Linked DNA regions of Homo sapiens. The protein of the gene in region 2 purifies or fractionates together with the protein of the main gene of each other region. This does not show direct contact. Each region holds a gene or a part of one and is shown on either strand. Other genes may lie near its edges.

Region 1 (6,349 bases), on a different chromosome or scaffold from region 2:
ATAGGGAAAACTCGAGCTGGGTAGGACCAGAACCATATGAGTGGTAGAAGGAGAAAGATGCCTGGGCCTGGGCTGAACTTAGGTTGTGGTCTCAGACCTAGGATCCAGGGGCCAAGTTTCCAAGCTTGCCCATCAGGAAGGTGGAGCGGTTAAGAACTCATATGCTAAATGCCACCCAGTGAAGGCCAACAGAGACCTCACTGCCCCTGCTTCTGGGCAGCAGCTATAGTGACCATTGGGGCCATCACAACGTTTAGACAGGTTTGTGCAGCAGCACATTCCTCCCCTGGGCCTTTGACTGGATGTGCACCAGATTTCCTGCCAGCCTGACTGTCTTGCTTGGATCTGCAGAGAGCCTGTTACCTATCCATAAACCCCCAAAAGGATGAGACGCTAGAGACAGAGAAAGCTCAGTACTACCTGCCTGATGGCAGCACCATTGAGGTAGGTGGCCTGCCTTCTTTCTTCGGTCCCCTTAGGTCCACAAAAGCTCTGGGCCCAACCAGAATTCTCCATCAGGGTCTGGAGTCTGGCAGGCCAGTCCCTTTACACCAAGCTTGTCCAACCCCTGGCCCATGGGCTGCACGTGGCCCAGGATGGCTTTCAGTAAGGCCCAACACAAAGTCGTAAACTTTCTTAAAACATTATGAGATTCTTTTGCAATTTTTTTTTTTAGCTCAGCAGCTGTCATTAGTGTTAGTGTATATTATGTGTGGCCCAAGACAATTCTTCTTCCAATGTGGCCCAGGGAAGCCAAAAGACTGGACACCCCAGCCTTACACCCTCTCTCTGGAGCAGCAGAGCTCCTGAGCATGAGTGGCCCTGTCTCCTGCAGAGGAGGCAGCCAGAACTTTGCTCCCTCCCGCTAGAGGGGAGGAAGCTCCTAAGGGATTGTCCCACATCAGTATGAGATTAGGAAGTGGGATGGTTAGTGCCATCCTTCACCACACCTGGGTGCAGTGTAGGGTGAGTTACCACTCCCTTGAACCCCCATTGCTAGGAAGACGTTTCCATGAGCAAATAAATCCATGTACTGATGCCAAAGACCTCTTGGCTGGAAAATGCCAGAGCGAGAAGGAAATATAGGAGCCTCCCCTCACTAGTTTCCAGGAGGCCTATCTTTGTTCCTTTAAGCCCTTGACATGTAGAGTCTGTCTTGAGCCTGGCCTTCATAGCCACCCAGTTACTAAGTGACGTGCAGAGGGGCGTCTTCCATTCCCACTCCCAAAGGGACCTTGGTCCCAGCTCCGACCTCTTCAGCTGGCCCTCCTACCTGCAGATTGGTCCTTCCCGATTCCGGGCCCCTGAGTTGCTCTTCAGGCCAGATTTGATTGGAGAGGAGAGTGAAGGCATCCACGAGGTCCTGGTGTTCGCCATTCAGAAGTCAGACATGGACCTGCGGCGCACGCTTTTCTCTAACATTGTCCTCTCAGGAGGCTCTACCCTGTTCAAAGGTTTGTCTCTTCTCTTGGAGCCCTTCCCCTGGAAGTGTTCAGCTCCTGCTGGCTCCAGGCACCCTGAGAATTGACTTGAAGTTCTCCTCTTTGCCCATTCAGGTTTTGGTGACAGGCTCCTGAGTGAAGTGAAGAAACTAGCTCCAAAAGATGTGAAGATCAGGGTAGGAGCATGGTGGGGCCTGGCCTGGGTGGAACTAGGCTTCCATGGACAGAGTGCCACCTGGCGTAGCTTCCCTCTAGCTTTGCCCAAGCTCTTCAAGCAGCCATGGCTCTACAAGCAGCGCCAGGTTCCCAGCCTGTACACTGACCCTGAGGTCTAGGTCAGCCACAGGGAGGCTGAGTTCTCATTCTCCCTCTTCACACCAAAGGCAGGCAGTTCTAATACCCAGATGAGGCAGGGTACTAGGTAGAGGGCCCCCTGCGTGATCTTTCAGGGAAACTATAATCTTAAGAGGAGACTGACTTACTGTTGCTGTGCCCCCTGCCCAGGTGGCTCCCCTGTCACACAGTCTGACACCTTAGTGATAGGTGAAGGAGGTTGGCTGTCTGAGGAGAGCGGGGATCCTAAAGGAAGGAGTACAGTTCTTGCCATGGAGTCTGCTTCTCCCTGCCCCCCCCAATAGTCCCAGCTTCCCTGGGACCTGTGGGGACTGGAAACCTGCTTCCCCAGATGAGTGGCAGGCTGGCCACAGTGCCCTCCAGAGAGGCCAGAGCTTCAGGCTTGTGTAAAATGTATCCCCTGCCATGGGCAGAAAGAGGAGCATTGTAGGGAAAGGGAGCGGGAGGGCTGGAAGTCTCAGATTCCTCTTTCCCCCACCTTTGCAGATATCTGCACCTCAGGAGAGACTGTATTCCACGTGGATTGGGTGAGTAGCTCTTCCAGGAGTAAGAACAGAACAGGAAGTGATGGCACTGATAACCCCTCAGCACCCTCTAAAGAAAAGCCTGATTTGGTTTGGCCCCAGGGGACTGGTAGGCTCCACACACAGCCACTTCTCTCTCACACAGTTCCTCTGGGTTTCCTCCCTCCAGGGGCTCCATCCTTGCCTCCCTGGACACCTTTAAGAAGATGTGGGTCTCCAAAAAGGAATATGAGGAAGACGGTGCCCGATCCATCCACAGAAAAACCTTCTAATGTCGGGACATCATCTTCACCTCTCTCTGAAGTTAACTCCACTTTAAAACTCGCTTTCTTGAGTCGGAGTGTTTGCGAGGAACTGCCTGTGTGTGAGTGCGTGTGTGGATATGAGTGTGTGTGCACATGCGAGTGCCGTGTGGCCCTGGGACCCTGGGCCCAGAAAGGACGATGAACTACCTGCAGTGGTGATGGCCTGAGGCCTGGGGTTGACCACTAACTGGCTCCTGACAGGGAAGAGCGCTGGCAGAGGCTGTGCTCCCTCCTCAGGTGGCCTCTGGCTGGCTGTGGGGGACTCCGTTTACTACCACAGGGAGACAGAGGGAGGTAAGCCATCCCCCGGGAGACCTTGCTGCTGACCATCCTAGGCTGGGCTGGCCCCACCCTCACCCCCACCCCCAGGGTGCCCTGAGGCCCCAGGCAGCTGCTGCCTCCACTATCGATGCCTCCTGACTGCACACTGAGGACTGGGACTGGGGTTGAGTTCTGTCTGGTTTTGTTGCCATTTTGGTTTGGGAGGCTGGAAAAGCACCCCAAGAGCTATTACAGAGACTGGAGTCAGGAGAGAGCAGGAGGCCCTCATGTTCACCAGGGAACAGGACCACACCGGCCACTGGAGGAGGGCAGGAGCAGTCCTCACTCTGAATGGCTGCAGAGTTAATGTTCCCAGCCCAGTCCCCTTTCGGGGGCCTTGGGAGAGTTTAAGGCACCTGCTGGTTCCAGGACCTCGCTTTCCATCTGTTCTTGTTGCAATGCCATCTTCAAACCGTTTTATTTATTGAAGTGTTTGTTCAGTTAGGGGCTGGAGAGAGGGAGCTTGCTGCCTCCTGCCTTGCTACACTAATGTTTACAGCACCTAAGCTTAGCCTCCAGGGCCCCACCTCTCCCAGCTGATGGTGAGCTGACAGTGTCCACAGGTTCCAGGACCATTTGAGATTGGAAGCTACACTCAAAGACACTCCCACCAGGCTCTTTCTCCCTTTTCCTCTTGCTCACTGCCCTGGAATCAACAGGCTGGTTGCTGGTTAGATTTTCTGAAACAGGAGGTAAAATTTTTCTTTGGCAGAGGCCCCTAAGCAAGGGAGGGGTGTTGGAGAGCCAGTGCCCTTAAGACTGGAGAAAGCTGCAATTTACCAAGTTGCCTTTTGCCACTGTAGCTGACCAGGGGACTAGGTTGTAGAGGTGGGAAGGCCCCCTCTGGGCTGATCTTGTGCCATTCTTGACCTTGGACCTGCTTGGTTAAGGAGGGAGTGGGCCAGACCAGAGTGCCAGGAGCTAATGGAGCCAGGCCTGACTCCTAGGAGTGGTCCAAAGGCCTTCAGCCTAGATGGTGCAAAGCTGGGGCCAGCCTGTCTTCACCGGCACCCTCACCTGTGACACCAAGACCCACCCCAATCCCAGACTTCACACAGTATTCTCCCCCACGCCGTCCTATGACCAAAGGCCCCTGCCAGGTGTGGGCCACAGCAGCAGGTATGTGTGAAAGCAACGTAGCGCCCCGCGGACTGCAGTGCGCTTAACCAACTCACCTCCCTTCTCTTAGCCCAAGCCTGTCCCTCGCACAGCCTCGCACAAACCACATTGCCTGGTGGGGCCCAGTGTACTGAAATAAAGTCGTTCCGATAGACACGTCAGCTGGGCCTCTATCTGTCTGTCACCAGGGCCAAGTGGAAAGAGGAAGAGCAGCAGGCACTGAATCTGAGGTGGTGACTGGGCCTGATCCATCCTCTAGAGGGCATCATTGCACCAGCCAGCCTTGTCCAGAGCATAGCCCAAGTCCCAGCCTGTCAGGTGGATGCAGAGAAAAGGGTGATCACACCACAGCCTAAGTTCAAGAACAGAAGGTCCCACTCCTGTGTACACTGTAGCCCATGGGTGAGACTCAACTCCAGATGACAGGAGCAGCTCTCAACATCCCTGAAATCAAAGATTCTCAAAACTGTCAAGTGAATAAGAAGGCCAGGAGCTTGGCCGGGCACGGTGGCTCACGCCACACCTGTAATCCCAGCACTTTGGGAGGCCAAGGCAAGTGCATCATAAGGTCAGGAGTTCAAGACCAGCCTGGCCAAGATGGTGAGATCCCGTCTCTACTAAAAACTACAAAAATTAGCCGGGCGTGGTGGCAGGCGCCTGTAATCCCAGCTACTCAGGAGGCTGACGCAGGAGAATCGCTTGAACCCGGGCAGTAGAGGTTGCAGTGAGCTGAGATCGCACCAGCCTGGGCGACAGAGTAAGACTCTGTCTCAAAAAAAAAAAAAAAAAAAAGAAGAAGGCCAGGAGCTTATTACAGTGCAGTTTCCAGGGCCCATACTCAGATATCCTGATTAATCACTTCTCCGTTTAAAACCTGCACTTGGGAGGAAAATTGCCAGGTCTTTGCCAAATGGTAACTATTTAATCTTCCCAATAACCTTACAAAATATACGTGCTTTTGTTGTCCATTTTACAGATAAGGATTTGGAGCCACAGAAAGATTAAGCAATTTTCCAAAGTTCTGCCTTTTTTTTTTTTTTTTTTTTTTTTTGAGATCATGTCTCACTTTGTCACCAGGCTAGAGTACAGAGGCACAATCTCAATCTCCGCTCACTGCAACCTCTGCCTCCTGGGTTCAAGCAATTCTCCTGCCTCAGCCTCCCAAGTATCTGGGATTACAGGTGCCTGCCACTGTGCCCAGCTAATTTTCATATTTTTAATAAAGATGGGGTTTGACCATGTTGGCCAAGCTAGTCTCGAACTTCTGACCTCAGGTGATCTGCCTGCCTCGGCCTCCCAAAGTGCTGGGATTACAGGTGTGAGCCACCGTGCCCAGCGCTGGCCTTTCTTAATCCCGAATGTAAACCCAGGCCATAGAACCTACAGCCTACATTTTTAATCACCATGCAGCCTGTAAAAAACCATTGGCCTAGAGCAGTGGTTCCCAATTGGAACCAATTTTGCCTCCCAGGACACATCTGGCAATGCCTGGAGATGTATTTGTTTGTCGCAACTGGTGTGTGTGTGGGGTGGGGTGGGGGGTGCTAAATGTCTACAACAGAGAACAATCTGGCCCCAAATATCTCCAGTGCTAGTGCCAAGGTTGAGAAATGGTGGCTGAGAGTCATGGTTTTCAGTGCCAGCTGCATGATAAAATCACCTACAGAGATGTTCAAAATCCTACTGCCCAGGCCATACCCCAGACACATTAAGTCAGAATCCCAAGGAATGGAACTGAGATGTCAGTATTTTTTAAGTTCCCCAGGGGACCCCAAGGCTGAGAACCTCGGGCCTAAAAGAGGCTCCTCTCTCTTTGACTACCATGTCCAGCAGTGATACATGGGAAATGCACTGAGGCCTAATGGTCATTTTGGGCCCGAGTGCCTATGCAGTTACCAATCTATGTTTTTCTCCCTGGCATCTTGGTAACCCACCAAGGTGGGTTTTTTTTTTCTTTGAGATGGAGTCTCATTCTGTCGCCCAGGTTGGAGTGCATGCAGTGGCGCGATCAATGCAACCTCCTCCTCCTGGGTTCAAGCGATTCTCCTGCCCCAGCCTCCCAAGTAGCTGGGATTACAGGCACACACCACTACACCTGGCTAATTTTTGTATTTTTAGTAGAGATGGGGTTTTGCCATGTTGGCTCAGGCTGGTCTCAAACTCCAGACCTCAGGTGATCCACCCACCTCGGCTTCCCAAAGTGCTGGGATTACAGGCATGAGCCACTGCGCCCGGCCTACCTACCACTCTTATTCAGAAAAATGCTCTCAGGGGCTTTTTCTAG
Region 2 (6,357 bases):
AAAATTGGTCTGTGGTAGGTTCACATAGCTTAAGTCATATATCTAACAAGAAATATTTGGCTCAGTAAATTTTTAAGAGGGTATACTCAAACACGGAAATACTTTCACTTTTTAAGCTAGAATATTATTGCCATGTTATTTAAAGTTGAGCTACCAGATGGGAGAAAAAATTCACCGGATCCTAAAATACTTGTTAGTATTTTGGCATGTTTAATTTTGTATATTTTTCTCTGCATTTTAAAGCCATAGCTATAATATGCACATATCAAGTTTGTACCCCAGGGCATGTTTTCAGAGTAATTATTTCAAGTAACATTATGTGTTGGTATAGTTAGATGAATCATGTTCTCCCTAAAACTTAAGCTTTCTTGTTTCTAGGGTTACTAGACACAGGACCGTGACTACTGTAAGCCTCAATTTTGTTATCATGAGAAGTACCATTATGAGGAGTAAATGAACTAACAGGAGAGAGCCTGTTGTGGTATTGGCTCTTAGTGGGTACTTAGGAAATGTTAACTTCTCCTTTCTTTGTTTGCTTAAATTATCTTGGGAGAAGGTGCCCATATGTTATTTGACCCTTTAAATAAAATTAAATTTTATAGTTCTTTTCCCTTAAATAATCTTAACCTTATAAAACCCAAGAATGTTCCTGTGTAAAAGAACTTGGTTACATGTTTGCTTGTATTTCTTTGAAAAATAGAGTTATTTATTTTTATTTATTTATTTTTATTTTTGACAGTCTCACTCTGTCACCCAGGCTGGAGTGCGATGGTGCAATCTCAGCTCACTGCAACCTCCGCCTCCCAGGTTCAAGTGATTCTCCTGCCTCAGCCTCCCTAGTAGCTGGGATTACAGGTGTCCACCACCACGCCCAGCTAATTTTTGTATTTTTAATAGAGACAGGGTTTCACCATGTTGGCCGGGCTGGTCTCGAACTCCTGACCTCAGGTGATCCACCACCTCGGCCTCCCAAAAGGTGTGAGCCACCTTGTCCAGCCTAGAGTTATATTTTTACAAAACAGAAGTATGTATGAGAAAATTCGCCTTTTAAAAAAGAAAAAATCTAGCTCTTCACGGTCAGTTTTCTGTAGTAATCTGAGGGCATGCTTTACAAATCTGTTTTGATGAAGGCTGGTTATATTTCCCCATTTGGGGATCCAAATAAAACCATTTCACTGATTGGCTTTCTGTGGGGGTGTTTCTATATGGGTATAGGACAAGAATTCTCCATTTAGGTGCACATAATCCTGTATTTTAAAAAAATCACAGAAAAAATTTAATGTTTTATTATTAATGGTTTTTTTTTTTTTGCACTTTCCTAATTTTTTCTCACTTTATTTTTCAGAATGAAACTAGTGATCGAGAAGATGGCCTCCCCAAAGGACATCATGTGACAGACTCTGAGAACGATGAGCCCTTAAATCTTAATGCTAGTGACTCTGAAAGTGAGGAGCTTCACAGGCAAAAGGACAGCGACTCTGAATCTGAGGAACGTGCAGAGCCTCCTGCAAGCGATTCTGAAAATGAGGATGTCAATCAGCATGGGAGCGACTCTGAGAGTGAAGAGACCAGGAAATTACCTGGTAGTGACTCTGAAAATGAGGAACTTCTTAATGGGCATGCAAGTGACTCAGAAAACGAAGATGTTGGGAAGCATCCCGCCAGTGATTCTGAGATTGAGGAGCTCCAGAAGAGTCCTGCTAGTGACTCTGAAACAGAAGATGCTCTAAAACCTCAAATCAGTGACTCTGAGAGTGAGGAACCCCCAAGGCACCAAGCCAGTGACTCCGAAAATGAGGAGCCTCCCAAACCTCGAATGAGTGATTCTGAAAGTGAGGAGCTTCCTAAACCTCAGGTCAGTGATTCAGAAAGTGAGGAACCCCCAAGGCACCAGGCCAGTGACTCTGAAAATGAGGAGCTTCCCAAACCTCGTATCAGTGACTCAGAAAGTGAGGACCCTCCGAGGCACCAGGCCAGTGACTCAGAAAATGAAGAGCTTCCCAAACCCCGAATCAGTGATTCGGAAAGTGAGGATCCCCCAAGGAACCAGGCCAGTGATTCGGAAAATGAGGAGCTACCCAAACCCCGAGTCAGTGACTCTGAGAGTGAGGGGCCTCAGAAGGGGCCTGCCAGTGACTCAGAAACTGAGGATGCGTCCAGACACAAACAGAAGCCAGAGTCAGATGATGACAGCGACAGGGAGAATAAGGGAGAGGATACAGAAATGCAGAATGACTCCTTCCATTCAGACAGCCATATGGACAGAAAAAAGTTTCACAGTTCTGATAGTGAGGAGGAAGAACACAAAAAGCAAAAAATGGACAGTGATGAAGATGAAAAAGAGGGTGAGGAGGAGAAAGTAGCGAAGAGAAAAGCTGCTGTGCTTTCTGATAGTGAAGATGAAGAGAAAGCATGTAAGGAGTTACCTTGGGCTGTTTATCAATGGCTTTATTCATTGTCTAAGCTTGTAACTGTGGAACATTGTATCCTCTTGGTATGTCAGATCTGTGTTCTGTTATTCAGCTTAATATTCTAAAATATCAGTAGGACACTCATTTCCCCTGGTTATCATTAGCTAAGCTTAATAGTAAGTTTCCTTGGAGTTCTATTAGCACATATTAATCTCTGACTGCCTCAAAGTGATAAACCACATGTCAATAGGAATATAAAATACTGTTTTTTTTTTTTAAAACTGGAAGAGGTAATGTTTCAAAGAAATACGTTTACATAAAAACCCCTAACTGTATTAATTGTTAGCTGTGGGTCTCTTTGACACTTAGTTCACTAGATCCCATCCAAACAGTAACAGCTCCCACAGGTACATCTCTTCATTTGTTAAACATTGTTGAATATTCAGATACAGGGAAGCTTTGAGAGGATTCTATTTAGAGACACCATCTCTCTCCAGAGTGTTTCAGTCTCTGCTATCTAAGACTCCATTTGCACAGATAGTATTACTTGTCTACTTTTTTATGAAACTTATCTTTTTTGGAAAAGACATATTTCATTATAACCTCACAGTTCTTATAGGAGAAGGAAAAGGTACCAGACATGCTGTCAATTTGTTAAGGGAGATGAGAAATTTCAAACTGACCAGCAATGATAGAGGAACATGGAGACTATTCCTAGAAAGAAATATGTAGTCCTTTTTAGTTCAGTTACTACTAGGCAACATAGAAAGGATGCCAGTTTTGCCCATCAATCTAGTTTTAATTTTCTCGATTTCCCAAAAGGAAAGGTGGCTGCTTTTATATTGATGATATCTTTCTTCATCTTTTGGCCAGTTTTTCTTAAGCAAAATAACAGATAATTTGTAAGATGACTCTGAATGAGCCATTTAGTTATTTTAAAAATTCTAAACCATGTGTCAGGAGGCCCTCTGATTTTATTTTATTTATTTATTTATTTATTTATTTATTTATTTATTTTTGCTGTATACTGCCATCTTAAAGCACCTGTTATGCTTAGTAATACAATGGCTGTGATAAAATAAAATTAATGATGATTTTCTTTTTCAACAGCAGCAAAGAAGAGTCGTGTTGTCTCTGATGCAGATGACTCTGACAGTGATGCTGTATCAGACAAGTCAGGCAAAAGAGAGAAGACCATAGCATCTGACAGTGAGGAAGAAGCTGGGAAAGAATTGTCTGATAAGAAAAATGAAGAGAAGGATCTGTTTGGGAGTGACAGTGAGTCAGGCAATGAAGAAGAGTAAGTGACAGTATAACATGAGTTTTCAGGGGTTCTTAATTAGGCAGTAGAGAGGGGTCTGTGTTATAATACAATATGTCCTGCCTAATTGCATGTCTTTGGGGATTTAGTATTTTAGTTCCTGAACTGAACACACTACAATGTGGGTGAATCTCAGAATTCATCTCAGAATTAACATGTTAAGTGAAAGAAAGCAAAGAGGACATATATGATTCCATTTACATGAAGTTCAGTAGGCAAAATTTATCTGTGGTGTTGGAAGTCAAGGTGGCAGTTGTTTCTAGGATGTTGATATTGGGGACCAGCTAGAAGGGGCCATGAGAGGACTTTCTGGGGAGGCTACATGAGTGTATAGGGTGCTGGTTACATGAGTGTATATATTTGTTAAAACTCATTGAACTGAACACTGAAGATCTGCACATTTTACTGTACATAAATTCTATTTTTTAAAAAATGGTTCCTATGCAAATGAGGATAAAGCAAATGAATGTTTTTACATTTGTCTACTTTCTAGAAATCTTATTGCAGACATATTTGGAGAATCTGGTGATGAAGAGGAAGAAGAATTTACAGTAAGTATAAGATGGAAATATTTCCTCCTTGATTGTGCTTTTTTTTGGTGTTTTTATGGCAGTGATACCATTATAGATGATTCTAATAAGTAGGAATAAACAATTATGATGTATTCAAGATAAAAATCTAGAAGAGGGATTCAGGAAGTAAAATGAAAGCGTATATACAAAGACATAAAAGGAAGCTAATGGGCAAAATTGAATTAAGGGGGAAGGGACACTTTGAGACAAAGAAAGTCACTTTATAATGCTAAAGGGCAAGATTCACAATAATTAGGGAACTTCCGATTTTCACAGTGGCATTCTAGGTGATTTGGACTAACCCCTCTGCCAAGCACAACTAGAAAAGCTAGACAAAAATATATAGAAATCTGCTCATTATCTAGGAACAAAGTAGCAAAGAATTACTAAGCCAAGAGAAACCTAAAGTGGTAATTCAGTGTTTAGAAGTGCTTTTTCTGTGGGGGTGTTTGCCTGTCAGGCTGAGAGGCTACTCATATTTTTGACAGCCTCAAGGCTTGGGGACAAAATTTAGAGTTCGGGGCCTATTGAGGTTAGGGGGCTTTGTAAACCCCATACCCTGGATTGAGACTTCAGAGAGCAGCACCATAAGATTTAGGGGGAAATAAAATAGCCTTTGCTCAGATTTTAGGCCATCTTTGAATCTTCTGGCAGACTAGAGAATCTCAGTCTCAGAAATAAGATTACAGTGGTTTAAGTTTTTCATATGTACTTATTATACACAAAAATAACATTAAAAGGTAACAGTAATGATGACAATAGTAATAGACTTAGGGCTCTAGATATAGGAATTTTAGATACCACCTTAAATATGTTCAGGGAGATAAGAAACAAGATTCAAAATGTCAGAGCAAACAAAAAGAAGGCAAATTTGGAAAAGAACCAAGTAGAAATTTTAGAACTATAAAAATACAGTAACTGAAATTAAAAACTCGATGTACAGGTAGGTAGGTGCAAGTAGCTGGTAGTCCCAGTTACTCGGGGGGCTGAGGCTTGGGGGTAGCTGGAGCCCAGAAGTTCGAAACCAGCCAGGGTAAAATAGTGAGGCCCTGTTTGAAAAGAAAAATGGGGTGGGAGGGGGTGGGGAAAACAGAAAACTTAGTGGATGAGTTTAGCATCAGATTAGACATACTTGAAAATAAGTGAACTGGAAGATGGCTTAGAAGGAGAGATCTGGAATGAAGCTTCAAGATACAGTATTACAGAAGAAAGGAAAAGATATAGACTATACATCGAAAAGTTTTCGCAAAAATTGGAATAATGAAAGGAGAGGGAAAGTTACATGTATAGCAGAAGCAGTATTTTAAAAGGAAATGATACCTAAACCATAGATTCTCGAAGTTGTACACATTGCAAGGAAGATAAACAAAAAGAAATCTACACCTAACTACATCGTAATAAAACTGCAAGAAACCAACGAAAATAGGAAAGTCTAAAAGCAGCCACAAGGGAAAAAAAATACGTTCAGAAAAGTAATGATTAGACTAACAGCTGACTTCACAACAGAAACAATAGAATCTACTAACTGCAAACCTAGAATTTTGTTAAATTTAGCAAAAATACTTTCCAGGAATGAAGATGAAATAAGGAGGGAATTAATTAACAGTGTACCAGCTGAAGGAAATACAGAAGGAAAGAAATGCAAGAAAGAATGATCTCAGATGGAAGGTTAGAGATGCAGGAGGGAGAAAAGAGCAACAAAAGTATGTGTATAAGTCTAAATGAGTATTGACTATACAAAATGAAATGTATTTAATGTGGAATATATATAAAATTAAAACATGACAGCAGTAAATTGGGAGCATACGTGGAATTGAAGTGCTCATAGGCCTTTGCAAATGTGTATGAATGTACATTAGTAAACTGATAAGTTAGGGTGCATGTTGTAGTCTCTAAAGTGACCACTAACAAGACTAAAATGGAATGTGTAATTTCTAAACTAATAGGGGGGGAAAGTGGAACAACTAGAACTAATCAGTCGAAAATGAGCAGGAAAAGAGAAAGAACTATAGGACAAGGGACAATTAGAAAGTATTACATGGTAAAATAGTAG
Region 3 (5,556 bases), on a different chromosome or scaffold from region 2:
TCCCCGATGCTTGTCGTAGGTATACACAGCCCTAAGGAGCCTGTCCCATGACCCCCGCTCACATCCCCATTGTCCACAGGAGAAGCGCATTGCCTCGTTGGATGCCGCCAATGCCCGCCTCATGAGTGCCCTGACCCAGCTGAAAGAGAGGTACAGCATGCAAGCCCGTAACGGCATCTCCCCCACCAACCCCACCAAATTGCAGATTACTGAGAACGGCGAGTTCAGAAACAGCAGCAATTGTTAACCTGCCTGAGGAGGGAGGAAGCTACCCAAGGAGAGGGGGACTATGGTGGCCAAGGGCAGGGTCTCGGCCTGGGGAGGCACCCACGGTTGCAGCCCCAGCGCGGGTGTCAGGAGGCCGAGCCTCCCCTCCCTGCCGCTGTCCAGGAGGCGGCCGCAGAGGGAGCCACCAGAGACTGAAGCAGCGTGAGGCGAGGTCACCAGCCGCTCCCTGTGGGGTGCGGGCAGAAGAGACTGCACGCTGGGGAGTGGGGACAGCCTGATGGGGCAGGGGGCCTGCCAAAAATATGTCTGTTGGTTCCTGAATGTGGTGTGTCCTTGTCCTCCTGGATCTGGCCGAGTGCATGTGTCCCCCCACACCTGTGCCAGGGAGGGGGCTTCCTGGAGGGGGGATTCAAGGGCTAGGGGCCTACACCTGTGGCTTCCCCTCGCCTCCTTGGGGGGCCCGGGACTCCCTGGCAGCCAGGCCCTGTCATGTGGGACCTGGCACTTGGCAGATCAGTTGGCAGGCAGGAAGATAGGAGGACACAGAGCAGGAGGTCAGTGTCCCCTGCCTGTCTCCATCCGAAGCACCTGCCACTGCATGCAGCCTGTTGGGACCTTCCTGGCTGTGAGGAACTGAGGATTCCTACCCACCCACCCCCTCTGAACCTGTCCCCAGAGCACCACCTGCTACCTTCTTCCCTGCCTTAGTTGTATTGCCAGATAGACCCAGTGAGGGCCATGGCTTTTTCTTGTGAGCTCTTGTCCCTGTGGGGAGGACCCACAGCTTCCCACACCTCCCACACAGGCCCAGGCTGATGCTCTAGGGCTCCCAGAAGCCAGAGATCTGGGCGGATCTGGCCAGATGGCTCTGAGCACTGTATCTGCCTTCTCCTGGGGCCCAGCACACCCAGGGCACAGTGGTCCTGTAGGGAGTGCCACCTGGTGCTCACCCTGAAAGAAAAGGTGATCCTTCCTCTGAGTGATGGTTTAAAAAAAGATTCTAACGCCTGCAGGCCCTGAGAAGGTGGATAACTGTGATTTTTTTTCCTTTCACAGTATGCATTAGAAACAAAAGCCCGCTTGCTCGCTTGCTGGAACACAGGGGCCTTTTAAGTTGAGCGTGCGCACTGCATGGGAAATAGCGGCCCTGGAGGATGTTAGACTTGCTCCCTCTCCAAGACAGCAGCAGCCTGCACCTGCCCCGTGTGTGTGGCCGGCCTCCTCCTCACCCTTCCCGGCCCCCGGCCAAGGACCCAGGCGCTGCATACAGGGGAGGGGCGCACCCCACAGCTGGGGCCGGTTTTCCTCAGCTCTAGGCTGTTCTGTAGCTTATCTGCCCCTCCCCCACTTTCAAGACAGATGAGCAGGAGCTTGGGTCTCTCTCGGCCCCTGTCTGTTCCCAGCCCCTGCAGATTCTGAGCAAAGGCCCTGGGTAAGAAGGGTGGGAGTGGGGCCTTTGCCAGCAGAGCCAGGGCAGGGCGAGCTGCAGGAATCACCCCTCTGCCCCTGCAGCTGGAATGTGCCACAGAGGCCCCACCTGAAGGGTGGATGTGCTGGAGGGGTGGCCCAGAGCCATACTGCGTCCACCCTGAGCTCGGGGACAGGTGACAGTGGCTGCTCTGGGAAGGGGCTTTTAGATGTAACCTACAATTCAGTTAGGCTAGAGACAGATGCTGGTGGAGGAAGGGCTGGGCCACCAGGGATCACAGACCACAGGAAGATGGGAGGTGGAAGCAGAGGCCCTGCCCCCACCCCTTCCTGTCTCACTCTTCTGTCTTGTCCCCACCCATGCGCCTTCGTGCCTGAGACCAGGGTGGCCACACAGGCAGGGCCTGGCTCCAGTCTCATCCTCCCATTGCCCAGTGAGCCCTGCTCTTCTCTCCCCAGCCCCCTCCCACCGCTGCCTCGTAGAGTGACCTCGGACAGAGCCCCCCTAGCAATACAGGGAGGCTCCCGGGGCCTGGACAGGCGGGCTCGGAGGCTACCCGCTGTGGCCGGTGCCAGCTGCCCTTGCAGGGTGGGTGAGCTCTCAGGCCGAGAGCCTTATTTACCTAGTGCAAAAACTGTAAAAGTGTACAGACTCTTCACAGATTTTTATCTTAATTGCAAGTCTGCCGATTTTGTAAATGTTCTTGGTGTTTGACTGTAATGTAACTATCTCACCTAATGGTTGTACATATCCTTTGGTCCTGGTGCTGCCGAGGGCTGGCCGGGACTGCTGCTCTCCCAAGGGTTTTATTTTATTTCTGAATCTAGAGAACAGTATTGGGCAGGAGGAAAAGGCTTGGTGTCTGCGGGGGGTGTCTTCCCTGCCTGTGGCATTTGTGTGTTGGCTTTGCAGCTGCTGTCTGAGTAGTGGCCACTGGGGTGCCTTCACTGGGCCAGTCAACGGGGGGCTCCTGCCCAGGCCACAGAGAACCTGAGTTCCCGGGAGCTGGGCCCTGCCTGCAGCCAGGGCTGGGGTTGCCAGAGGCCCTGGAGGGAAGGACAGTCCCTGCTGGGGAAGAACAGCCCCGGGGCCCCCTGGTCACCGAGACTCAGCCTCTGCTGGAGAAAGCCACGCCCTCCCTGCTAGCACAGAGGCCTGACTGACTTTTTTGCTTAACTTCCATGTTCTGGGTGATGGAAACTGCCAAACCTCCTGTCAGTGAGGACTCTTTCCGACTGCCCAGAAAGTGGGGGTGGAGGACCGAGGCTACAGCTCCACACGCCCCGGTCCCCCAGAGCATCTGCCCCAGGTACACCTCCCCCTGCGCCCCGCACGACTGCGGGAGCCAGACTGTCCAGGGAAACAGCCTCTCTCTTTTCTACACACTCAGCCACAAAGCCCCCCAGCTCCCACACCGCGTCCCAGCTCCCCTCTTTTGTAAGTATGTGAAAAGGAAAAAATGCAAACGTTGGAGTTTGGGCTGGAGCTCCTCCCTCCAGCTGCGACTTTTAACTATGTAATAATGTACAGAGGAAGCTGTTGGTGTTCTAAGACTCTGTGTGGCTGTGCAATTTCTGTACATTTGCAATTAGAAATATTAAAGATTTATTTAGCTATTTTAAGCCCGACTCGTGTCTCCATTCAGCTGTGTGTTAAGGGATGACCCTGAGTCCGGAGCGGACACTGTCCTTTACCAAGGGGACCCCAGCATCTGGTTCACTCTGGTGGCATTCGTGGGCAGGGGATACCCCTAAAGCCAGTGGTGGTGGTCTGGCCAGCTTGGCTCACTGGGAGATCTGGGATTGCCCCCTCCTCCTCTGGGTTGAGGGGTCTCTGCACCAGGGAGTAGAGCAGTTGTCCTCTTAAAGGCTCTTCTCTGGCTCTGATACGTTTGGAAGAAAAGTCTGCTGGTCCCACCACCTCCTGGGAGACAGGGTGGTCCCAGCACCTTCACTGCAGCACACACTGGCTCTTGCCAGGCCCTGCATTAAGCGCTTTCTCATCCACTGAAATCTGGCTCTGGGAGGGAAGAGACCAGGGAGAAGAGGTGGGCCCAGGTCCCAGCAAGTCATGGCAGGGCTGGACTAAACATTTCCAAGCTTTCAACACCTTGAAAGTCAGACTCGGGCTCTCCCAACACAGACCCACCTGCAAGGCTGAACTCAGGCCCTTGTTGGGAAATAACCAGCCCCCAAGCCCCTTCAGCTGCACCTGTACAGAGAACCTTGCAGCCCTGGGTCCTGCCCTGCATCTTCAGCATCTCAGGATCTGGTCTTTCAGTGCACAGTAACTCCAGACGCTCCAAGGGACAGGTCCTGGTCCCAGCCCTAGCCCAAACCCCTCAGAAACCAGATACTGCCTGGGCCGAGCTTCTGCTGGGGGCAAGGATACCTCTGGTCAAAAAGCCAGATGGAGCTCCGGGTCTGTCACCTAGACAGGTGCCTCTGGCTCCAGCTAGGGATTGGGCCCCAGAGAGAAGCCTCGGGCCTGTCCCTGTTCTTGCCCCTGCAGCCAGCTGGAAGCAAGTACGGCAGAGCCACACACCGGAGCAGGGCTGCACCGTCACCCTCACCGGTGGCCCTTGTGTCCCACCTCCCACCCTCCAGCACCCTGGCTTCTCAGGCTGTCCATCTCTAGCCTCCTGCCAGGACCCCCTTTGAGCCAGCCACTCCTGGGGCCCACCCTGGGCTGCTATCACCTCTGACCTAGGAAAGTGTCATCCGTGCTGCTCACAGCGGGCACAGCTGCCAAGCCTTCCCTGCTCATCCTCCACATCAGCACTGGTCTGCAGACCGGCCCCTTTCCTCCCCAGCCTGTGTGTTCTCTCTGCCTTCCCCCACCAAGCCTAAACCCTGTGGGCTCCCTCCTCAGCCCATCTTGACAATATTCCTTGACCACTTCGGCCTAGGGGCCACCCAACAGCCGTGATCTCCAGGCCACCAAGCACTGCAGGAGAAAACTAAAAAACACCCCAGTTCTGACTGCCCTGTGGGTCTGTTCCCATCTCCATTCTCAGCTAGGCCTTCCTCTCTCATTCTCCACCCCAGTTAATCCAAACTCGTACCTCTTTTCAGATCTCCCAGCCAGCCAACTGGCCCTTCTCTGAGCCCTGCCTCCTCCCACACTGGGTGACCCCCCCAACCACCACCCCCTCTCCTCAGGCCGACCACCAGCACAGCTACCCCAGCTCTCAGCAGCGGCAGGAGAGGAGGCAACCTGTTTCTTCCCAAGGCAGCCCCTAGCCAGTTCCTGCATCCCTGCCTCTTGCTGCCTCCGTGGCCTCTAAACCTCCAGCCTCCCCCGCCCCCACCCCGCTCTTTCCTACAGCATTTTAAAGTGCTAGGTCTCCACTTGCTTCAGGCTGTCTGCTTTTCTCCCCTTCAGCCAAACTTCTTGAATGTATACTGCCTGCAGCGGCCTGCCATCTCCACAGCCTCAACCCCCATTCTCCCCCCACCCATCAAAACCTGACTTTGACCTCCCGCTCCTCCACCGCCCCATTGCCTCTGCACTGCTGTCCCGTCCCTGGGTTTCAGGGACCACCATCCCTCTGCTGGGGAGATGCTCATAAGGAACACAGAACTCAAGGAGACAGCAAGGAATGGGACAAAGAAATCATTTGATGTTGATAGGCATCTATTTTATACTTGTATAAATGTAAGGGGTACAGGTGCAATTTTGTTGCATGGATACATTGCATAGAGGCAGAAGCTGGACTTTTAGTGTATCCATCACCCAAATAGTGTACATTTGCCCATTAAGTAATTTCTCATTACCCACCCCCCTTCCACCTCTCCACCCTTCTGAGGCTCCAGTGCCTACCATTTCACACTCCATGTGTACGCATTATTTAGCTTCCACTTAGAGAAAATGCCAAATTTGACTCTCTGAGTTCTTTC
Region 4 (3,500 bases), on a different chromosome or scaffold from region 2:
GTGAAACCCCGTCTCTACTAAAAATACAAAAATTAAATTAGCGGGCATGGTGGAATGTGCCTGTAGTCCCAGCTATTTGGGAGGCTGAGGTGGGAGAGTTGCTTGAACCTGGGAGGCGGAGGTTGCAGTGAGTCAAGATCGTGCCACTGCACTCCAGCCTGGGCAACAGAGCAAGACTCCGTCTCAAAAAATATAAAATACAAATACAAAAATTAGCTGGGCATGTTAGGGTGGCACACATCTGTAGTCCCAGCTACTCGGGAGGCTGAGGCAGGAGAATCACTTGAACTCGGGAGGCAGAGGTTGCAGCTGAGCCAAGATTGTGCCACTGCACTCCAGCCTGGGCAACAGAGTGAGATTCCTTCTCCAAAAAAAAAAAAAAAAGGCCAAAAACCTACCTATCAGGTACTATGCTCATCACCTGGGGTGACAAAATAATCTGTACACCAAACCCGTGACATGCAATTTACCCATGTAACAAACCTGTACATGTACCTCCTGAACCTAAAATAAAGGTTAGGAAGAAAAAAAAACAGATATATATATATATATATATATATATATATATATATATATATATATATCAATCACAAATATGTACAAATATTATGGATCAATAAAAAATAAATAGATTGTTTTCAGAATAAAGATGTCATTTATGTGGTTCACCCTGTCACACTTTAAGACTTGGGCAATTTAGATTAATATGGTTCAGAATAAAGGTATGTTCTGTGGCCTAATAAATAGAGAAGGTTAATTTAGCCAAAGTGACACCACAGAGGCTGTATCACTAGCTCAAAGCTCTCCTTGACCACCATGTTCCAACATTCCCTCGCCTGCCCTCTGTGCCTCCTACCCACCTGATAATAAGCACCAGCGGCATTGGCATCGCCATATGTGGAAAACTGATTGTAGCTGTAGTCGTCCCCAGGCTTAGGCATCCAAGGGGCCCCACTTGAACCTGCTGCCATCTTGAATTCAAGGGGGGCATTGGCTGCATCGTCCTGGAAAGCCGGCTCTGGTTCCGTGCCTGGAGGCAGCTCTTCAGGGACAGTGGGGATGGGGTAAGGGTATGGCTCAACTCCAGGTGGCTCAGCCTTTTCAGGGAGGGAGAAAAAGTTTTCGGGGGCTACTTCCTCATCACTGTCGTCTTCTTCCTGCGTGATCTGCTTTGTCACCTGCAGGGCAGCACTCTTGGCAGCAGCCTTGATAGCAGAGGGCGACGGAGTGGTGGTTGTGGTGCCCACAACAGGGGCAAGAGAGGAAGTCTTGGTCTTAGAAGCCAGTCTGGAGGGCTTAGTATCAGGGGAGCCATCCGAGGGTTTGCGGGAGAAGGCATGGGGCAGGAGCAACCTGTTAGTCTCTTTCACAGTCAGGTTTTTAGGTTGGGGAAGCAAGGCAGACAAACCAGTCCCCTCACTGGATCCCTGGTGAGCCCAGGTGTGGGATAGGAGGAAAGAAAGATGACAAGTGAGATTTTATGTACTAGCAACACCAAAAACAACAGTTACAGATAAGTTCTCTAGCCTAAAATCTTACCAGCCCTTGTTTCTTCCTTACCTCCGTCCACTCAGACCACCTAATCTGGGCTTGACTCCTGCTACTTCAGGCCTTTCTGCGGGCTGCTTCTCCCAAGGTGAGGTATCATTCCTCTTCTCTTCCATCCCAACCCAGCTCCACTGCCCTCTTCCACAGAGCGAGCCTTCCTCAACTCTGTGTCTTCAACAAATACGATGCTCTTAACCTCACATCGTCCTTCCTCCCCAAAAGCCCAGGTCTCTCCAGCTCATCACTCAACCTCTCTCCGTGTCCTGAAGGGACCTCTTAACACAAGAACCCTCTCCTTCCTTTGGAATGCTACCCAAAATCAAGAACAAGGTTCTGTCTAAAAGAAACATTCATACTGTTGCAAAAGTCCCTTCCCGGCTGGGCAGTGGTGGCTCACGCCTGTAATCCCAGCACTTTGGGAGACCAAGGTGGGCGGATCATGAGGTCAGGAGTTTGAGACCAGCCTGACCAACATACTGAAGGCCCGTCTCTATTAAAAATACAAAAATTAGCCAGGCATGGTGGTGGGTGCCTGTAATCTCAGCTACTTGGGAGGCTGAGGCAGAAGAATCGCTTGAACCCAGGAAGCGGAGGTTGCAGTGAGCCGAGATCATGCCACTGTACTCCAGCTTGGGTGACAGAGTGAGACCCCTTCTCAAAAAAAAAAAAAAGTCCCTTCCCCTGACCAAGGGAGAAAGCTAACCCTGAGCGAGACCCCTCAGCAGCGCTAATGACGCCTAGGAAAGAGTGGAGGCCCAGCACGTTCAACAAGGAAGCAGTGAGTCCAGAGACTGCAAGGGGCCTGACACAGCTTTTTCCAACCCTTTAAATTGCTCTCCTTGTCACCATCCCCAAAGCAAAGGAAACAGGATTTCCTTTCTCTTTTTTTTCCCCCCCTTAGATAGGAACCTGAAGCCTCAGCTTGGGTGGGGCAGCTCCCTTAGGACTTAAGTGCTAAGGGTATTTTTTTTTTTTGGTCGGAGTCTCGCTCTATCACCCAGGATGGAGTGCAGTGACATGATCTTGGCTCACTGCAACCTCCGCCTCCCAGGTTCAAGCAATTCTCTGCCTCAGCCTCCCGAGTAGCTGGGATTATAGGTGCTCACCACCACGCATGCCTGGCTAATTTTTGTATTTTTAGTAGAGACGGGGTTTTACCATCTTGGCCAGGCTGGTCTTCAACACCTGACCTTATGATCCACCCACCTCGGCCTCCCAAAGTGCTGGGATTACAGGCATGAGCCACAGCGCCCGGCCTAAGGGTATTTTTTACTTAAGACCATAGAATTCTACATTAGCTGACTGAAAGGGTTTTTATAAGATCATCTTCAGTTCTTTTCAGACTTACTCAGCTTGCAAATTTCCCTAATCTAAGACATTACTGCTTTTTACAAAAATATGTAATTTTAGTATCTTTAGTGCCATCATACATACAGAGGTAGTTTTGTCAGCCAGAAATGAGTGTATATATATATATGCTGTATTTTTTTAATCTGAAGAAAGTCCCCTACCCTACCCAAGGAAAGCCCTATAGATGTGGCATATTAGCTTGTTAATGCCAGAGTCAAGCATTTAACTTTTGATCTGTAAGCTCACTGGCCCAGCCCATCCAGAGTTCCTATTACCCAAAAGAATCTCTCAGATTCTGCTTTCTCTATGCTAAAAGGCCCGTTTGGCCTAACTGTAGAGCTAAGGGAAATGCCAATTGGAAAAGGAGAATGGAATAAGGTCACTGTGTCACTGTCTTAGAGTACTAGTGTACTCCAGCCTTCTCAGCCAAGAAATGCCCAGAGTAAATAAGACATTTGAGTCAAGCCACACAGAACTGCTCATGTGGAGACTGGGCTCTTCTTGCTGTGTGTGTGTTCACAGATTTGGTCCAGCCTGGAAGCGCCCAGAGGCTCCGGTTCATAGGAACCACACTGAGGTACAGGGCGGAGCACACCCTCAGG

What was found.
Region 1: the proteins of IWS1 (region 2) and ACTR1A purify together in Homo sapiens (affinity purification with mass spectrometry; one large-scale study listed by BioGRID and IntAct). This does not show direct contact.
Region 3: the proteins of IWS1 (region 2) and DAB2IP purify together in Homo sapiens (affinity purification with mass spectrometry; one large-scale study listed by BioGRID and IntAct). This does not show direct contact.
Region 4: the proteins of IWS1 (region 2) and PRCC purify together in Homo sapiens (affinity purification with mass spectrometry; one large-scale study listed by BioGRID and IntAct). This does not show direct contact.

What each region holds. Positions count from the first base shown.
Region 1 is NC_000010.11:102,477,106-102,483,454, reverse strand, and holds the end of ACTR1A (alpha-centractin), read left to right. Parts: intron 1-351; coding exon 352-444; intron 445-1,279; coding exon 1,280-1,454; intron 1,455-1,556; coding exon 1,557-1,618; intron 1,619-2,282; coding exon 2,283-2,323; intron 2,324-2,489; coding exon 2,490-2,592; 3' UTR 2,593-4,226; downstream 4,227-6,349. UniProt on the Homo sapiens protein: Part of the ACTR1A/ACTB filament around which the dynactin complex is built. The dynactin multiprotein complex activates the molecular motor dynein for ultra-processive transport along microtubules.
Region 2 is NC_000002.12:127,500,741-127,507,097, reverse strand, and holds part of IWS1 (protein IWS1 homolog), read left to right. Parts: intron 1-1,345; coding exon 1,346-2,414; intron 2,415-3,521; coding exon 3,522-3,711; intron 3,712-4,225; coding exon 4,226-4,283; intron 4,284-6,357.
Region 3 is NC_000009.12:121,782,252-121,787,807, forward strand, and holds the end of DAB2IP (disabled homolog 2-interacting protein), read left to right. Parts: intron 1-79; coding exon 80-247; 3' UTR 248-1,284; coding exon of another isoform or gene 1,285-1,294; 3' UTR 1,295-3,279; downstream 3,280-5,556. UniProt on the Homo sapiens protein: Functions as a scaffold protein implicated in the regulation of a large spectrum of both general and specialized signaling pathways.
Region 4 is NC_000001.11:156,784,535-156,788,034, reverse strand, and holds part of PRCC (proline-rich protein PRCC), read right to left. Parts: intron 1,428-3,500; coding exon 861-1,427; intron 1-860. UniProt on the Homo sapiens protein: May regulate cell cycle progression through interaction with MAD2L2.